2 separate regions of the Homo sapiens genome follow, and region 2 is linked to region 1. Evidence: fine-mapped QTL for protein levels in blood plasma. Region 1 holds a variant in brackets. A gene starts in the other region. All regions are shown on their forward strands.

Region 1 (2,500 bases):
ACCATCTTCCCTTGTCTCCCAGAACCATTCCAGGCCTGGACGGGCTTCTACACGTCCCGCAGCTCACTGAAGGGGCTGGCCCGGCGAGCCAGCGCCTTGTTGTATGCCGGGGAGTCCATGTTCACACGCTACCTGTGGCCGGCCCCCCGTGGGCATCTGGACCCCACCTGGGCCCTGCAGCAGCTCCAGCAGCTTCGCTGGGCCGTCTCCGAGGTAACACCACATTTAGCCACAGTGGCAGGATTGGAACCTCCCATGCTGCGCACCTCCCCTCCCTTGTCCTAGCCAATCCTTCCAGCCCTGGGGCACTAGAGGCCCCACTTTACAGAGGGGAAACTGAGGTTCCCTTTGGTTACAAGGCCAGTGCATGGTGAACCCAGGCCAAGGCTGAGACCACAGCCTGATCCATCCAGCTGGTGGCCTCATTAAGCTTTGTAGCAGTTTAGCAAAAGGGATAAAGGACAAGGTGGAGTGGCATTTGTGTCCGACAGCCCTGCCTGCATCCATATCTCGGCTCAGCTGTGTGATGTCAGGCACATGATTCCCACACCCACCCAAGACCTAATTCCCTCCTGTACAATGAGAACAACGAGCTTGCCCAGGAGGACGGTGGGGCAATTGGATGTGCTGGTGTGCACAGCCTGCTTGGTGCAGTGGCTGCTGAATAGCCAGTTCATGAGTTTCCGTCTCCACCCATCCCCTACTGTACTGATGGGAAAACAGACCCAAGACAGCCTGTAACTTGTCCTCAGTCACCTATCCAAAAAAGGGTCACACCAGCCATGACACTGTAACAGTTCCCCAAAAGGAGCTGCTGGCAGAACATGTCATTATGTTGTGGGAGAAATGAGGTGACTTCAGGGTCCTTCAGAGCAGGGGGTCCAGAGATGGGGGACAATGAGTTCCCACAAGGGCAGGAAAAGTTGGGCGAGCTCCTCAGCTTCTCTTGGCCTCAGTTCCTCCTTCTGTAAAATGGCGGGGACTGCCCCCTTCTCCACTGGCACCTGGCAAGCCAGAATGAGAGCCAGCGCCTAGTAGGTGCCTTGTAGGTGCTTTGCAGAGTCAGGTCCTGATCCTGTTCTTCCTCCCCTCTGGGGGTTGCTGCAGGTC[C/A]AGCACCATGATGCCATCACTGGGACTGAGTCCCCCAAGGTGAGAGACATGTACGCAACGCACCTGGCCTCGGGGATGCTGGGCATGCGCAAGCTGATGGCCTCCATCGTCCTAGATGAGCTCCAGCCCCAGGCACCCATGGCGGCCAGCTCCGGTGAGCAGGGCCCTGCAGGGAGGCTGTGGCCCCTTTATGAAGGGAGAGCCTGAGGAGGTCAGGGGAGGGGCTCAACGACCCCAGCTTCAGACTCTGAGTCCACATCACCCATATCGCCCTTCCCCATGGTGAGAGCTCGGACAGGTGGCTTCAGTCCTCCCAGCCTCTGTTTGCTCATCCGTGCAATGAGGAAGGGTTGCTGATGTTACAAGAAGAGCCAGAAATAGCAGCTAACATGTTTTGAGCATTTACTAAGCTCAAAATACCCTTCATGCAGTATTGAATTTAATGCCTCACAAAATCTGTACAAAATAGGAATGGTTACTGTCCTCATTTTACAGCCGAGGAAACGGACTCAAGTTATATGCTAGCCCAGGGCCACTCGGGTAGGAAGGAGCAGAGCAGGGATTGAACCTGAACACGGTGCTGCCCAGCCTTGGCAGAGAGTACGCCGGTGTCCTCAGGGGCCCGGTCCCTTCCTGGCTCCTGGCACTCCCTCCCGAACTCCACTTGGCTGACATCACAGCAGGGCAGCCGTGGGACCAGCCTCTTTGACTGTGAGTTTTCCCACGTGTAGAGTGACTGATCACATGCCAGTGTGCCTGGGACTGAGGGGTTTCCAAACTGGGAAGATCCTGGACAAATGAAGACAGGTTGGCGGCCCTCCGCCCGCATGAGACTTTTGTGTGCATAGGCCGCCAGGTCCCACCCACAGCCTGCACCTGGTCATCTTGCACTTCCTTCTTGTTTTTTGTTTTTTGAGACAGGGTCTCGCTGTGTCACCTAGGCTGGAGTGCAGTGGTGCCAGTCATAGGTCACTGCTGCCTTAGACTCCTGGGCTTGAGCGATCCTCCTGCCTCAGCCTCCCAAGTAGCTGGGACTACAGGCATGCACTACCACACCTGGCTTATTGTTTTATTTTTATTTTTTTTGGAGAGACAGGGTCTCACCATGTTGCCAGGATGGTCTCCTAACTCCTGGGCTCAAGTGGTCCTCCCACCTTGGTCTGTCAAAATGCTGCTATCTGGCCAGGCATGGTGGCTCACACCTGTAATCCCAGCACTTTGGGAGGCCGAGGCGGGTGGATTACGAGGTCAGGAGATCGAGACCATCCTGGCTAACACGGTGAAAACCTGTCTCTACTAAAAATACCAAAAAAATGAGCCGGGTGTGGTGGCGGGCGCCTGTAGTCCCAGCTACTCAGGGGCTGAGGCAGGAGAATGGCGTGAACCCAGG
Region 2 (3,009 bases), not on the chromosome of region 1:
ACAAGTGAATTCAAAGTTCAAGAGAAACGAAAACCCGGAAGATGGCTGAGGAACCAAGGTAAGGATGGAAGACTGCTCTAAGCCAGGGGCTGGGGAAACCTCCCCGCCTCCATTTTTACTCTTCTCCAACCCACTTCTCTCCCAGCAGCCGAATGAATCTTTCTAGAAGCTGATAGTAACCACTCCCTGACTTAACATCTGTCAATACAGGGCTCTCAAGGCTCACTCCTTCAGGACAAGCCCCTGCCTTGACAACTTCATGGGTCGTGGTCTCCCCTTATCCCCACCCCAGCGCTCTCTACTCTGTTCTCTGAACCAGCCACCCCCAAGTTCCAACAGTTCTCAGAGAGAGTCAGACCCTTCCTGGACACTTCCTACGTAAAAGGGATTGAGAGGAGCAAACGAATGACTATCTGTACTGTTGCCCAAATACACTGCACACCAGAACTCCCCTCTCTTTCCCTCTTAGAGACATTAGGGCTCAAAGGGTTGTATCCTTATATAACCCCTTTCTACAACCATAGAAGAGGCTGCAGGGAGGCTGAAGTGACATGTCCAGGTTCACAGTTGAATTAGAACCAGGCTCCACACCACTGATTTGAAACCCTGGAGTCCTGATAGTGCTGTCAATCTGAAAGGGACATCAGGTATGGCCTAACTCAGCCCTCTCGGTGCACAGGTGCAGATACCCAGGGCTTCCCAGCCTGCCATCTCCCTGAACCTTCATTTATCAGTCCCCAGTCAAACGCACCTCCTCCTCCTCATCAGGTGTGCCAGGCTCACTCCTGTGGCCGCAGGAGGCCACACGCGGGCCCCGGGGTCATGGGGGCGACCGGCAGCTGCGCGCCCCAGCTGGCCGCCCAGCCCCACCTCCTGTTTGCCGCCCGAGCCGGGAAGGGGCGCCGCTCCCCGGGACCACACTCACTTGGCGCCCGCGGCCTGGAAGAGGTCGGCCCACTCCTCCGGGTGGAAGAAGCGCGCAGTGAACTGCGGTCCGAAGTCGGCGTAGCTGAAGCCGGGCGGGTAGTTGTCGCGCATGAAGCGCTGGTACTGCGGCCGCCCCTCGCCCTGCCAGTGCCACCAGAACCACTCGCTGCCCCAGGCGGGCACCGAGAACACGCCCCAGTGGATGAACACCCCGAACTTGGCTTCGTCGAACCAGGCCGGCAGCGGCCGAGAATCCAGGCTCGGCCAGTCTGGGGTGTAGCGGCGCGGAGGCTGGGCCCGACGCACCGACTCGGCCGCTCCGAGGAAGAGCAGCAGCAGCAACAGCGCGGGACCCGCCGGCCGCGACCTCATCCCCGGAGCCCGCATCGCTACCCCTCAGCGACGCGGCCCACTCTTAACGCGCAGGTGCCCGCGGGCGGCTCCGCCCACTCTGACTAACGATTGGCCCGGAAGGAAAAAGGGGTGGGACAACCTGGACAGGTTGGCCCGAGTCGCTTCCTCCTCGGGTCGGAGGAGCGCCCTCTGGTGCTCAAGAAGGGAAAGACGCAGGGAGGCGTTGACAGCGCTTCGCTGAAGGACGAATAAAAACCTTGAAAAGGGACTTAACTGCGAGGTTAAATCGTGGAGGTGAGCAAGGCCCAGTGTGTGCGGAGAACTCACATTTAAGAAGGAGTCCATTGAGCCGGACGCAGTGGCTCACGCCTGTAATCCTAACACTTTCGGAAGTCGAGGCGGGAGGATCGCTCTGAGCCCACAAGTTGGAGACTAGCCTGTCTCTATAAAAAATAAACAAAATGAGCCTGGCGTAGTGGTGCACGTCTGGAGTCCCAGCTACTCGAGAGGCTGAGGTGGGAGGTTCGGGATCGCTTGAGCCCGGGAAGTCTGGGCTGCAGTGAACCGAACCGTGATCACGCCTCTGGGAGTAGTCCATTTTGCCGCAGCAATCCTGCAGGGGTAGGCTGAAGTGAGATCACGAGTTTTATTTAGTGATCACTTGGGAGCCATAGGGGGCTTTTGAGTTGTCCTGTAGCACAAGGCTGGAGGAGGAGATAACAGACCGGAAGGGTATCTAACAGCCCTGACAGAAATAAGGAGGTAGAGGGATGATGGGAAGAAACGTTATGAAAGGAGAGGAAAGAGAAAACTGGGTACTGAAAGAGGGAGAGCGGGCAGGACCGTTTCATCTGTCTGGTATTTACTGAGCTTTCTTTGGGAATTCCGAGGCATTTCAAATAGCTTAGTTTGTACCGAGATACCGCCACTGCACTCCAGCCCCTGGGCGACAGAGCCAGACCAAGGAAGAAAGAAAGGAAGGAAGGAAGGAAGGAAGGAGGAAGGAAGGAAGGAAGGAGGAAGTGGAGAGCCAAGAGGACCCAGGATTGCCTGGCAGGGAAGTTCCCCAGTTCCTCTGCAATTTGCACATGCTGCACATACTCAAACGGGAGGTGAGGCCATTAGCGAGGGAAATACGGAAGTCAGAAGTCTCTGAACAGACAAGGTGGCTCACGCCTGTAATCCCAGCACTTTGGGAGGCCGAGGTGGGCAGATCACCTGAGGTCGGGAGTTTGAGACCAGCCTGGCCAACATGGTGAAACCCCATCTCTACTAAAAATACAAAAATTAGCCGGGCATGGGGTGCGCCTGTAATCCCAGCTACTCAGGAGGCTGAGGCAGGAGAATTGCTTGAACTCGGGAGGTGGAGGTTACAGTGAGCCGAGATCGCACCACTGCACTCCAGCCTGGGCGACAGAGTGAGACTCGGTCTCAAAAAAAAAAAAAAAAAAAAAGAAAAAGAAAAGGAAGAAGAAGTCTCATGACTCCACGTAGCACACTCAGTTCCCACATGCCAGTGAGAGAATGGCAGCACATCAGAGTTGGGACTTTGAAGATCCTAGGCACCATCCTCTTCCCTACCCTTCCCATTGTACCGAGGAGGGAACTGAAGCCCAGAGAGGGCTGGGGGGCTGCCCAAGATCATGCAGCTAGTTTGAGTCAGAGGTGGGACTAGAATACGTGTCTCCAGGTGCAAAATCTATGCCTTTGTTCATGCTGCTTCTTTCT

Which allele goes with the higher level. Alleles are on the strand shown, and positions count from the first base shown. The strength of an association depends on the size of the effect and on how common the allele is.
With allele C in place of A in region 1, the plasma level of the protein whose gene starts at base 1,318 in region 2 is lower (weak association).

What was found. PIP is the posterior inclusion probability: the model's chance that the variant is causal. Protein levels are from antibody-based Olink assays in UK Biobank. Linkage for the fine-mapping came from a reference panel and not from the study's own genotypes, which makes the PIPs less certain.
Region 2: FUCA1 starts here. The variant in region 1 is fine-mapped to the plasma level of the FUCA1 protein (UK Biobank, PIP above 0.99).

What each region holds. Positions count from the first base shown.
Region 1 is chr4:6,597,091-6,599,590 of GRCh38, forward strand. It overlaps MAN2B2 (mannosidase alpha class 2B member 2), which reads left to right. Exons shown (of 19, transcript NM_015274.3): 8 at 23-213; 9 at 1,108-1,264. Among named protein-coding and RNA genes, the nearest start is that of MAN2B2, 23 kb to the left of the region's middle. The variant C/A (reference allele first, on the strand shown) is at 1,111.
Region 2 is chr1:23,866,973-23,869,981 of GRCh38, forward strand. FUCA1 (alpha-L-fucosidase 1) reads right to left here and starts at 1,318. Exons shown (of 8, transcript NM_000147.5): 1 at 926-1,318. The coding sequence starts at 1,314. RefSeq lists a silencer at 730-949.